2 separate regions of the Homo sapiens genome follow, and region 1 is reported to be linked to region 2. The links are microRNA targets in miRTarBase. Many come from high-throughput screens and were not tested one by one. Region 2 holds a microRNA gene; the other region holds the end of a gene's coding sequence.

Region 1 (7,495 bases), not on the chromosome of region 2:
AACATTCTTAAAGAAAAGAATTTTCAACCCAGAATTTCATATCCAGCCAAACTAAGCTTCATAAGTGAAGGAGAAATAAAATACTGTACAGACAAGCAAATGCTGGGAGATTTTGTCACCACCAGGCCTGCCCTAAAAGAGCTCCTGAAGGAAGCGCTAAACATGGAAAGGAAAAACCGGTACCAGCCGCTGCAAAATCATGCCAAAATGTAAAGACCATCGAGGCTAGGAAGAAACTGCATCAACTAACGAGCAAAATAACCAGCTAACATCATAATGACATGATCAAATTCACACATAACAATATTAACTTTAAATGTACATGGACTAAATGCTCCAATTAAAAGACACAGACTGGCAAATTGGATAAAGAGTCAAGACCCATCAGTGTGCTGTATTCAGGAAACCCATCTCACGTGCAGAGACACACATAGGCTCAAAATAAAAGGATGGAGGAAGATCTACCAAGCAAATGGAAAACAAAAAAAGGCAGGGGTTGCAATCCTAGTCTCTGATAAAACAGACTTTCAACCAACAAAGATCAAAAGAGACAAAGAAGGCCATTACATAATGGTAAAGGGATCAATTCAACAAGAAGAGCTAACTATCCTAAATATATATGCACCCAATACAGGAGCACCCAGATTCATAAAGCAAGTCCTGAGTGACCTACAAAGAGACTTAGACTCCCACACATTAATAATGGGAGACTTTAACACCCCACTGTCAACATTAGACAGATCAACGAGACAGAAAGTTAACAAGGATAACCAGGAATTGAACTCAGCTCTGCACCAAGCGGACCTAATAGACATCTACAGAACCCTCCACCCCAAATCAACAGAATATACATTTTTTTCAGCACCACACCAAACCTATTCCAAAATTGACCACATACTTGGAAGTAAAGCTCTCCTCGCCAAATGTAAAAGAACAGAAATTATAACAAACTGTCTCTCAGACCACGGTGCAATCAAACTAGAACTCAGGATTAAGAAACTCACTCAAAACCGCTCAACTACATAGAAACTGAACAACCTGCTCCTGAATGACTACTGGGTACATAACGAAATGAAGGCAGAAATAAAGATGTTCTTTGGAACCAACGAGAACAAAGACACAACGTACCAGAATCTCTGGGACACATTCAAACCAGTGTGTAGAGGGAAATTGATAGCACTAAAAGCCCACAAGAGAAAGCAGGAAAGATCCAAAATTGACACCCTAACATCACAATTAAAAGAACTAGAAAAGCAAGAGCAAACACATTCAAAAGCTAGCAGAAGGCAAGAAATAACTAAAATCAGAGGAGAACTCAAGGAAATAGAGACACAAAAAACCCTTCAAAAAATTAATGAATCTAGGAGCTGGTTTTTTGAATGGATCAACCAAATTGATAGACCACTAGCAAGACTAATAAAGAAGGAAAGAGAGAAGAATCAAATAGATGCAATAAAAAATGATAAAGGGGATATCACCACCAATCCCACAGAAATACAAACTACCATCAGAGAATACTACAAACACCTCTACGCAAATAAACTAGAAAATCTAGAAGAAATGGATAAATTCCTCAACACATACACCCTCCCAAGACTAAACCAGGAAGAAGTTGAATCTCTGAATAAACCAGTAACAGGCTCTGAAATTCTGGCAATAATCAATAGCTTACCAACCAAAAAGAGTCCAGGACCAGATGGATTCACAGCCGAATTCTACCCGAGGTACAAGGAGAAACTGGTACCATTCCTTCTGAAACTACTCCAATCAATAGAAAAAGAGGAAATCCTCCCTAACTCATTTTATGAGGCCAGCATCATCCTGATACCAAAGACTGGCAGAGACACAACCAAAAAAAGAGAATTTTAGACCAATATCCTTGATGAACATTAATGCAAAAATCCTCAATAAAATACTGGCAAACCGAATCCGGCAGCACATCAAAAAGCTTATCCACCATGATCAAGTGGGCTTCATCCCTGGGATGCAAGGCTGGTTCAATATATGCAAATCAATAAATGTAATCCAGCATATAAACAGAACCAAAGACAAAAACCACATGATTATCTCAATAGATGCAGAAAAGGCCTTTGACAAAATTCAACAACCCTTCATGCTAAAAACTCTCAATAAATTAGGTATCGATGGGAAGTATCTCAAAATAATAAGAGCTATCTATGACAAACCCACAGCTAATATCATACTGAATGGGCAAAAACTGGAAGCATTCCCTTTGAAAACAGGCACAAGACAGGGATGCCCTCTCTCATCACTCCTATTCAACATAGTGTTGGAAGTTCTGGCCAGAGCAATTAGGCAGGAGAAGGAAATAAAGGGTATTCAATTAGGAAAAGAAGAAGTCAAATTGTCCCTGTTTGCAGATGGCATGATTGTATATCTAGAAAACCCCATTGTCTCAGCCCAAAATCTCCTTAAGCTGATAAGCAACTTCAGCAAAGTCTCAGGATACAAAATCAGTGTACAAAAATTACAAGCATTCTTATACACCAATAACAGACAAACGGAGAGCCAAATCATGAGTGAACTCCCATTCACAATTGCTTCAAAGAGAATAAAATACCTAGGAATCCAACTTACAAGGGATGTGAAGGACCTCTTCAAGGAGAACTACAAACCACTGCTCAAGGAAATAAAAGAGGATACAAAGAAATGGAAGAACATTCCAAGCTCATGGGTAGGAAGAATCAATATCGTGAAAATGGCCATACTGCCCAAGGTAATTTATAGATTCAATGCCATCCCCATCAAGCTACCAATGACTTTCTTCACAGAATTGGAAAAAACTACTTTAAAGTTTATATGGAACCAAAAAAGAGCCCGCATCGCCAAGTCAATACTAAGCCAAAAGAACAAAGCTGGAGGCATCACGCTACCTGACTTCAAACTATACTACAAGGCTACAGTAACCAAAGCAGCATGGTACTGGTACCAAAACAGAGATACAGATCAATGGAACAGAACAGAGCCCCCAGAAATAATGTCGCATATCTACAACTATCTGATCTTTGACAAACCTGAGAAAAACAAGCAATGGGGAAAGGATTCCCTATTTAATAAATGGTGCCGGGAAAACTGGCTAGCCATATGTAGAAAGCTGAAACTGGATCCCTTCCTTATACCTTATACAAAAATTAATTCAAGATGGATTAAAGACTTAAACGTTAGACCTAAAACCATAAGAACCTTAGAAGAAAACCTAGGCATTACCATTCAGGACACAGGCATGGGCAATTTCCATAATTTTTATAGTTGCATAGTTTATCGTGTAGGGTGCTAATTTGTCTCACATCAACTTGAAGCTTCGGAAAAAACATGTCTTCAAACTGAATTATACATATCGCATAGGAAAGCTGTATGTATCAGAGAAAAAAGACACTGGTCTATTAAGCATTTTAAATACAAAAACTATGAGGTATAGAAACAAAGCACCAGAAGTACATGAAAAAAGGAATCTTAGGCACATAAAAAGTTCCCTCGCTGCATAGGGAAGATAGGTAACAGTGAAGGAGAAAGACGGAGTTAGAAGAGGCTGTAAAGTCACATTAGGTATGCATTAGAAATCCTCTTACAGGTTCAGGGCACTGGTATAACATCACAGGCCATGGGCCTGTTGGCTATATATGCTAGTTCGTAACTGGATTAGATTTTTTCCATTTACGTGTCACTATTTTACGGAAAACCAATCTCAAATTTTATTTTTTAAAAAAAGAGAAATAGAATTTGCTTCACAGCAGTTTACATTACAGTTATTTATTTCTCACTCTGTCTCCCAGGCTGGAATGCAGTGGCGTGATCTCGTCTCACTGCAACCTCCGTCTCCCAGGTTCAAGCAATTCTCTCGCCTCAGCCTCCTGAGTAGCTGGGATTACCAGGTGCCTGCCACCACGCCCAGCTAATTTTTGTAGTTTTGTAAAGACGGGGTTTCACCATGTTGGTCAGACTGGTCTCGAACTCCTGACCTCAAATGATCCGCCCGCCACGGCCTCCCAAAGTGCTGGGATTACAGGTGTGACCCACTGCGTCCAGCCTATGTTACAGCTAGTTCATTTTATAAATTATTCTATTCCTTCAAAATAAGGACAGCTATTAATGAAAGATTTCTTGAAAGTGCAAGACCTGCAGGTTTCAGAACTTAAAGTCATTCATGATCCTAACTGGCCCCCTCCTATTTCTACCCTCGTCTTGTCATTTGAAAGACAAGCCAGTGCTTCACTTTCATTGGATTTTTTCCCCCTGGTATTTTCATTTTTAATAATGGGAAGGCATAAACTAACACAGTAACAGTTTTAAAGTACTCATCATTTAAACCTTTATAAGGCTAGTAATGTAAAAGGTAAAGAAAAATGTATATGGGTTGTAATAAGGGTAGTTTTTTCTATTCACTGTTACTTGACTTTTATAGGGCAAAAATCATAGTAGAGACTATGTCATTGATTTTCAGCATGAAAGATATCAAAATTAAAATGGGAAAATGATACATTTAACATTGGTAAACAGGAATTTATCAAAAGACAAAGAAAAATTGCAGAAAAGTATATCAGTTAAACCATAATACTCAAATTGGAGTGGAAAAGATTATAATCCGACAGATATTTATCAAAAACTAACTTATAGTATTTAAAATGTGAAATTTGACTTCAGGGCAGGGCAACATATTTTAAACACAGGAAATCAGAACACAACACTTGAGCGAAACACTTAAGTTACCCTTAAGTAATCTTACAGGTGACTAATTTCACAGGCTCAGATTTAAAACTACGGTGCTTTAAATCTGAGTCTGTGAAATTAGTCACCCTTAAGATTACTGGCTAAAGATTTAATCTTCTCTCAAAAAGAAAATAAACAAGCTACCTGATTACAACAGTCTTAGAAAATAAAAATGAAATTTTCATTTATAGTATGAAACCTGTTACATCAATTCATTAAATATGATGTTCGACTCAACTTTTCCGTTGTTTAAATAGTGCTAAAATAATAGTATAGCCCAACCAGGGAAATCGTAAATATTTAAGATTACAATGTCAGTGGAAAACATTTTTCGCATGAATTAAAAGAAAAGCATTCATTTGAAAATATTCCCAAGTAAGAAGCCAAAATAATTCCATTAGAATTTTAAAAGGCCAGAAAGAGCAACCCAAAAATCCAGTGTGAAAGAAAACAATACCTATATAAACGTTAAGCAAAGCCAGGAATGTAGATTACTTTGAAACATCTACTTATTTCCATTTTAATGAAGAATTAAAGGATACAATGTGTTAAAGACATATTTAAAATACTAGCAAGGGATTAGACAGACGAATCAAATTTTGTTGATATCCCAAATAATTACAAGAGACTTCGAAAATGTAGTGTAATTCAGGTTTTCTTTCCAGTTTAAAAATTTCTATCCATTGCCTCTATCTTTGGTGTCACTGCCACCAATAAACACAGTATACAGCTTAGAAACCTAATTACTATCTTCAACTAGGAAAAGGTAAACCAACATCATTTCTTTAAAATGAGAAATAAAGAATGTGATCGTACTTAATTTTGTCTCATGGTCCCACAATACTCTGAAATGTCATGCCAAAATGTAAAAGTTCAAAAGGGAACATTATCATTTGCTATAATTGCACCAAAAATTTAGCTACTGTACGCTGGTGTGATGACAGCCAGTAGTATGCAGAGGCTACAGAAAGACATGTAGATATATATATATACACACACATATATATATATATCTCTTTAGCTCACAATTAGTAAAAGGTTCAGTTTAATGTGAAACTGAAACACACGACAACATAATGCGCCTTCATGTAAATACGCTAACAACTTTGTTTTCTTGAAGTTTAAAAGGATAGTATAATTACCTTAAATTTACACAAAACATTAAGAAACATGGTAGTTGTTTATGATTAAAATAAAATAGCAACGTAAATTAATTTAACACAGTGTTAAATATATTCACACGATCACCACTGTGATTCAAAATGGCCACTAATGCAGTTACATATCAATATATGTACATAACATTTGTCACAACAGTTTTTGTAAGTTTGACTTTCTGCAGACCAGGTTTACGAGACAAATAGCCTTGTATCAATTCTTTCATATTATGAAAGGAATTAAATGTTGTAAGTAGTTTCATTCCTCTGCAGGGGCGGGGGGGGAAGAACCTCTAAAAAGTCAGTGTAAATTGAGGAGAGTTCTACCTTCTTGAATATTTGAACCTGTTGACCTGGAGAGATTCCTATAAGCTGAGGATAAACACATCTTAAGATAGTAATGAATCTCATAACATTGTCAGTGGCATTTAGCAGGTATCTGCCACCAAGAGGAACACCGGGTCCTATAGCAGAGCCTTCTGAGAATATGGTTGCTGTGGCTGAGGTGGCTGTTGGCTGCCTCCGGGCTGAGGCAGAGTTGATGATGTTAAGTTATAGTTTGGCACCTGGGGCATATTAGGTCCTGCATTCTGGTACAGAGTGACATCGGCAGTTGCAGCAGCAGCAGTAGCGGCAGGAGGAGGACTATATACTGGCGCCTGGCTGGGATATGTGTTTCCTTGAACGGAACTGACCATTGTACTGTGGAGGAAGAAAAACACTCAATTACATCAATACTGATTTATAGAGCAACTACAGATAAATGGAAAAGCTATTTACTAAGCATTCATTCATATAGTCAATTCATTTAATAACCTTTTACTAAACAGCTATAATGTGCCAAACATTGTTATTTTAGGCTTTGTGATATCAGGCATTGCATTAAAAATATGTGTGTTATTTAACCATTGTGTAAAAAAAGTTGGGGGGGGTGGTTTGCGGAAATAAGTCTATACCACCATGGAGCGTCTGTTCTAGTGGTAGAAAAGGGTAACAAACACATGTATCGTGTGTCAAGTGGTTCTAACTGGTAAGAACAAAAACAAAGCCCAATACGGAGGACAAAGAGCAGCTGGGGCAAGGGATTCTAGTTTATGGTAGGGTGCCTCTCCAATAAGGCAATACTTAAGCAAAGATGTGGAAAAAGTAAGCGAGTGAGCCAGATAGATTCCCTAGGAAAGTACATTTCAGGTAAACAGAAAGAAGCCTTTGAGGAGAGAAAACACCAAGCATGTTCAAGGAACAGCAGGCCACGAGTGCTGCGGCAGAGGGGGCCGCAGGGGGTGCCGAGGGGAGAGCAGCTAAGATCACCGGCAGGACTGCGGTGGTGGGGAGGGGGCTGGAGAACACACAGCACCTGATGGCCACAATAAGGACTGTAGCTTACACTCTGAGTGAGACAGAAAGACACTGGCTCGTTCTGAGCAGAAGCGTGATAAGATTCCACAGGGTTTAACGGGCTCCCTCTGGACCAGGATAGCTGACTGCAGGTTATTACGATCCACCAGGAGAGAGCCGACCAGCAGAAGAGCCACGGCAGTAATGGTGGAGATGGGAGAAAGGGTCAGAGTCTAGATAGATTTTGAAGATAATGCCTTCAAAATATGATA
Region 2 (7,000 bases):
CTTCATGTTTGATTTTTTTCCACCAGCCAATTTCTAGAATGAAACAATATTTCAAAGTTAGTGGTGACTAAATTTTTACTTCTGAAAATTGGCTTATATATTTGCTTGTATGCCTCAGTAGGCAAGTCTTTGAGAAATTACACTTATGATATATGGACTATATGCTATAGTATTATTGCCAAATCATAATTTGGAATTCTTCTATCAGAATCAAAAAACTTTTTTTTTTTTTTAAATAGAGATGGGGTCTTGCTCCATCGCCCAGGCTGGAGTGCAGTGGTTCAGTCATGACTCACTGCAGCCTTGAACTCCTGGGCTCAAGCAGTCCTCCTGCATTGGCCTCCCAAAGTGCTGGGATTACAGCATGAGTCACCATGCCTGTTCAGAACTTTTTTGTATCTTACCTTTATCTTTAGACCAGGAATTAGAAACCTTTTTCTATAAAGGGCCAGATAGTAAATATTTGAGGCGTCATAGGCTACACCTTCTCTGTCATACCTATTCAGCTCTGTCATTGTAGCATGAAAGCAGCCATAGACAATATGTTGGGGACCAGCCTCAACACCACCCATAGGGTACCCAAAGCCCTGTGGCAACAAAGGAAGAGAAGAGACAGGTTAAGAGTTCATAAAGATGGGAGCCAGGGGGCCAGTTGCACAATGGAGGCTGCAAAAGGCCCAGAGTTCTGGTCTCCACACGATTTATTGAGTACAATCACTTAGATCTAAGAAGCAGATGTTTAGGGCGAAACAGTGAAAGGGAGGCAGCATGTCATAGGCGTAATCTATAGCAGTAGCGGTTTAAATGAATCTCCTTTGTGCTTAAACAGCATATCTTTAACTTATTGGAGAGTAGCTAGTAGGAGCGGGCTTAACTAGGAGCCTGTACGTCTGTCCACATTTCAGTGTTTCAGAGGAGTGTCTTTCTCCTTGAGCACAGTGTTTATAGATAAGAGAGCAGGTTGCACTCAGAGCATGGGAACATAACGGCGATAAGAAGGCTTTCCTCCTCAGAGACCTCTTGTGGCTTTCCACAACTTATTGTCCCATATTTTTATGGCCAGTTTATGCAGGCACTCCATAAGCCTTTTCCCCAACAACAATTTGTAAACAAATGAGCATGGATGTGTTCCAGGGAAACTCATTACCAGTAAAGGTGGTGGATCAGACATGGCCCCCTCTCTGGGCCCTACTGTTCTGCAGGTTTTCAAAGATTACTTGGGAGATTTCTCTCCACCTGTTTGCTAAGACGTTCTGTGACTGATGTAATCCACAACCCATTTTCCCAGCCGTTTTCTGTTTTGTGCTTTTATTCTCTAGCTTTATAATTGTCTGGGGGGAAGGGCGTGATGGTGCCATATAAAAATAACAGTCAATAGCATCAGTTATAAGGAGGTAAGAGTCAGGAAGAGTAACTCTTTAATTAGCTGGTCTCAGGGTTAGTATAGGGCCTTGCACATGGTAAAGCTGAAAAACATTTAAGAAATGAATATTTAGGCACTCTTGGTACAGTAGTAGCATTATGGTCAGACAGACTGGCGCAATCCCTGTGAAGTCTGGTGGCCAGGGACAAGAGAAACCTCCATCAAGGTGTTGCAGCAGCTGTCATCAAAGGATTCACTCAGCCAATCTCTCTTGGCCTAAAGTTAGTCCTACAAAGGAAGGTTGGCAGTTTTGACTGCCTCTCAGAATTCTACAGCTGAGAAACACACACATACTCACATACACACACCTATACCCCTTGCAGCTTTCCTCCTGCTCTTGCCTCAGGTCCACTCACTGTCAGTGTTTCCTGAGATGAAAAGCCTTCCTTACACAGCCAGTATGGAGGAGAAACTAAAACCCCAGGGATCATAAGAACCCAGATCACAACAGATTTGCCGCTGTTATCTTTTTAATGGGAATTTAAGGTATTTGGTGATTCTAGAAGGTTAAAGTAACTAACTTGCTCAGTGATGAAATTTATTTCAATTCTCACAGGCATACCTTGGTCTCCTTTGCCAACCAGAACAAATCTATGATAGGAAGGAATGGTAAAACATTCAAGGTGATGTTACATACAGAGATGAATACCCTAAACTGCAAAGGAGAGGCATTGAAGGATTAAGGGATAAGTGGCCATAGACTGCTAACCCAGTCATCTTGTTGGAACCTCAGAAAATACCTGAGAGGCCAGGCACTGTGGCTCATGCCTGTAATCCCAGCCCTATAGGAGGCCGAAACCAAGGTGGGAGGATTGCTTGAGGCCAGGAGTTTAAGACCAGAGTAAGGAACATAGCAAGACCTTGTCTCAACTAAAACATAAAAAATTAGCTGGGCATGGTGGTGCATACCTGTAGTCCTAGCTACTCAGGAGGCTGAGGCAGGAGGCTCACTTGAGCCCAGAAGTTCAAGGTTGCAGTGAGCAATGATTGCAGCACTGTACTCCAGCCTGGGTAACAGAGCGAGACTCTGTCTCAAAAAAAAAAAAAGAAAAGAAAAAACCTGAAAGACCCTGCAAGCATTTGACTCAATCTTTCTGTCTGACCATTTGACCAAAGAAAGTACAGTCATGTACCACATAATGACTTTTTTGTCAGTGACAAATTGCATATACCATGATGGTCCCATAAAATTATAATGGAGCTGAAAATCTCTTATTGCCTAGAGACGTCACAGCATCATAGCATAACGCATTACTCATAATGTTTGTGGTGATGCTGGTATAAACAAACCTACTGCACTTCCAGTCATATAAAAATACAGCACAGGCTGGGCGCGGTGGCTCAAGCCTATAATCCCAGCACTTTGGGAGGCCAAGGTGGGTGGATCACCTGAGGTCAGGAGTTCGAGACCAGCCTGCCCAACATGGTGAAACCCCATCTCTACTAAAAATATAAAATTAGCTGTGTGTGGTGGTGCACGCCTGTAATCCCAGCAACTCGGGAGGCTGAGACAGAAGAATCGCTTAAACCCGGGAGGCGGAGGTTGCACTGAGTAGCTAGGACTACAGGTATGCACCACCATGCCCAGAGTGCAGAGAGACTCTATCTCCAAAAAAAAAAAAAAAAAAAAAAGCACATACAATTATGTACAGTACAGTACATAATACTTTCATATACAACTATATTACTGGTTTATGTATTTACTATACTATACTTTTTATCATTGTTTTAGAGTACATGCCTTCTATCTATTTAAACAAACATTAACTGCGCAACAGCCTGAGGTGGTTCCTTCAGGAGGTATTTCAGAAGAAGGCATTCTTATCATGAGTGTTATTACCCATGAAGACCTTCCAGTGGGACAAGATATGGAGGGGGAAGACAGTGATATTGATGATCCAGACCCAATGAAGGCCTAGGCTAATGCGTGTTTGTCTCAGTTTTTAACAAAAATGTTTGAAAAGTTAAAAAATAAAAATAGAAAAAAGCTTACAAAATTACGCTATAAAGAAAGAAAATATTTTTGTACAACTGTACAATGTATTTGTGTTTTAAGCCAAGTGTTATTAAGAAGGAATTTTTTTAAATTCTTGAAACAAATGAAGATGAAAACACAGCACACCAAAACCTATGGGATACAGCAAAAGCAGTACTAAGAGGGAAGTTTACAGCAATAAACACCTACATCAACAAGTAGAAAAACTTCATATAAACAACCTAATAATACATCGTAAAGAACTAGAAAAGCAACAGCAAACCAAACCCAAAATTAGTGGAAAAAAAGAAATAATAAAGATCAGAATAGAAACCAAAAAAACTATAGAAAAGAGGAATGAAATGAAAAGTTTTCTGAAACGATTAAAAAAATCAAGAAGCCTTTAGACAAAGAAAAAAAAGAGGAATGCTATTACAAAAGAGTCAAAATTTTTTAAAAAATAAAAAGTATATAAAGTTAAATTACAGTAAGCTAAGGTTAATTCATTATTGAAGAAATAAAAAAACTTTTTTATAAATTTAGTAGACTCTTAGTGTACAGTGTTTATAAAATTTACAGTAGTGTATAGTAATGTCCTAGGCCTTCACACTCACTCACTGACTCACCGGAGTGACTTCCAGTCTTCCAAGCTCCATTCATGGTAAGTACCCTAGATAGTGTACCATTTTTTAAATTATTTTAGACCATATTCTTACCATACCTTTCCTATGTGTAGATATGTTTATTATTTATTTATTTATTTATTTAGAGACAGGGTCTGGCTCTGCCACCCAGGCTGGAGTGCAGTGGCACCATCTCAGCTCACTGCAACCTCCGCTTCCTGGGCTCGAGCCAATCTCACACCTCAGCCTCCCGAGTAGCTGGGACTACAGACCCGTGCCACCATGCCCAGCTGATTTTTATATTTTTTTTGTAGAGACAGGATTTCACTATGTTGCCCAGGCAGGTCTCAAACTCCTGAGCTCAAGTGATTCACCCACCTCAGCCTCACAAAGTGCTAGGATTACAGGCATGAGCCCCCACACCTGGCTTTAGATATGTTTAGATACACAAATACCATTCTGTTCCAGTTGCCTACAGTTTTCAGTACAGTCATGGGCTGTACAGGTTTGTAGCCTAGGAGCAATAGGCTCTACCATATAGCCTAGGTGTATAGTAGGTTGTCCCATCTAGGTTCGTGTAAGTACACTTTATGATGTATGACAACAAAATCATGTAACATCACATTTCTCAGAATGTATCCTTGTCGCTAAGTGACATATGACTGTAATTTGTTGATATCCAGATTCTTAGAAGTCTGCTTCACAACCTAAGACAAGCTGTGGGAAATTCCAAGGGTATCTAAACTGAAAACCATGAGCATGAGCTCAGGGTAATGAATGCCTTCCTCAAGCCACAGTGTCTACCACCCAAATGTTTAGGAAATGCAGGGTGATCAGTGCTAAGTCTTGGCAAATATTGTGATTGTTTCTTAGTAGAAACCTACAATGGTAGTAGCAAACATATGGCTGCCATCCTGGGTCCTTGGCCTAAGTACAGATGTCACTAACTGACCTATTTTTTACATTCTGCATACAGTATATCACCTGAAGGCCAAGAAAATGAGCATGGTTTTGTGGAGATCACCTTCCCTGTATTGCCATAACAACATTCCTACTAGTTTGACAACTAGTAACCAGAGTGGCTCCATGAAGTAGAATGATACTCTAGGAAGCGACCATGATGTAACTTCAGACTTTTGGAGAGTCTGTGAAGTTACATCATGGTCGCTTCCTAGAGAATCATTCAGCCATTACACCAGTATTATGACAAAACTTATCAAATCTGACTCCCAGCCAACATGGAGTAATAGGGACTACGTATACCTTCCCACCTGAAACAACTTAAAAATAGAGCAACATATATCTGAAGCATTTTCCAAACATTAAACAAAGAGCAGTCCAGGCCAGTGATCCCTGAAAGGGGATGCAAATCAAATGCCCGGAGAGACCTGTGATTGACCTGCTTACTCCCTCAAGGGAGTTGCAGTGAGGGGAACACAGGCAGAGTCCAGCAGTCTCCATAAGTTGAAAAGATACAGCTGGAAATCTGAGGACACCAAAGAGACTAGTGTTCCTAGGGCAGAGTACAGAGAGGTGAGAGCTAGCCCAGAGGAACCCTTCCAGAGATGTGAAGTCTTCCACTGAGTACTGGATAGCACATGTATGTAAGTAAACTATTAATACTTGAGACTGGGAAAAGAACTAACCTAAAGGACAAAGGGGAAAACAAAGCAAAACAAAACAAAAAAAACAGGTCTCTGGAGCTTAAAAAAGACCAGGAAGAGTTTGTGTTCCACCAGTCAGAGTGGAAAACCTTACAATTCACAGGGCATCTGGTAGAGTACTCAGAAGAGCATTAGCTCAGTAGAGGAAAATAATTAGCCCTAGGCTAAAGGCTGCTGTGATCCCATTTAATAAAGCTTAAAAGCAAGCCTTTCTGAAAGAATTAAACTGCGTACAATAACTTGACAGTGTCTCAGATAACCCAACAAATGTTTTAGGATCCAATGTAAATTTACCAGGTACACAAAGAAACAGGAAAAGTTGACCCATAATGGGAAAAATCAGTTTATTGAAACCAGTTCAGAAATGACAGTGCTGATATACTAATAAAGTAGGTGTTTAAAAATCATTATACCTATATTCTATATGTTCAAGAAGTGAGAAGAAGGATTAACCATGTAATGTAGAAACATAGAAGATATTTTTAAAAACCCAAATCAAACTTTTAAAGATGAAAACTACAATGTGAGAGAGAAAAAATACATGACAAGGGATGAATAGCAGATTAGACATTACCAAAAATAATTGGTAAACTTGTTTTCAAAAACTGCAAAAAGAAATAGACAAATCCACAATTGTCATCCAAAATTTCAACACTTCAATCCTAAATATTAGTTTCAAAAATAGTAGACAGATTACAAATTAAAATGAGATGCCTCTACATACCTACCAAATGTCTAAAACCCAAAACACTGACAACACCCAGTGCTGGTGAGTGTGTGGAGCAACTGTAAGTCTCATTCGGTGCTGGTGGGAATGCAAAATGGTACAGCCACTTTGGAAGACACTTTGGCAGTTTCTTTTAAAACTTAACATACTGTTGCCATACAACCCAGCAATCGTGCCCCTTGGTATTTACCCAAATAAGATGAAAATCTATGTCCACACAAAAACCTGCACGCAGATATGTATAGGAGCTTTATTCATAATTGCCAAAACTTAGAAGCAACCAACATGTTCTTCAATAGGTGAATGGAAAAAAAACTATGGTATATTCAGACAATGGAATATTATTCAACACCAAAAAGAAATGAGCCATCAAGCCATGAAAATACATGGAAGAACCTTAAATGCATATAATATATAACTAAATGAAATAAGCCAACCTGAGATGGCATATGTATGATTTCAACTCTATGACATTCTAGAAAGGGCAAAACTATGCAAGCTATAAAAGAATAGTGAATTTGGGGCGGAGAGGGATGAATAGGTGGAACACAGAGGATTCTTAGGGCAGTGAAACTCTTCTGATACAGT

The links. The annotated mature microRNA hsa-miR-4670-3p reads UGAAGUUACAUCAUGGUCGCUU and lies in region 2 at 5,131-5,152, opposite strand. An mRNA with a match to its seed (bases 2 to 7 or 8) in the 3' UTR can be bound and repressed. Matches are read on the target gene's strand: a 7mer-m8 pairs with bases 2 to 8, a 7mer-A1 pairs with bases 2 to 7 and ends in A, and an 8mer does both.
Region 1: the mRNA of STAM is a reported target of hsa-miR-4670-3p. Seed matches in the 3' UTR shown: 7mer-A1 at 5,844-5,850.

Annotation. Positions count from the first base shown.
Region 1 is chr10:17,713,635-17,721,129 of GRCh38, reverse strand. STAM (signal transducing adaptor molecule) reads right to left here. Exons shown (of 14, transcript NM_003473.4): 14 at 4,306-6,587. The coding sequence ends at 6,350. Among named protein-coding and RNA genes, the nearest start is that of TMEM236, 35 kb to the left of the region's middle.
Region 2 is chr9:92,522,861-92,529,860 of GRCh38, forward strand. MIR4670 (microRNA 4670) reads right to left here and starts at 5,198; the gene lies at 5,124-5,198. All of the region lies in intron 5 of CENPP (centromere protein P), which reads left to right. ECM2 (extracellular matrix protein 2) reads right to left here. Exons shown (of 10, transcript NM_001393.4): 2 at 1-33. The coding sequence starts at 6.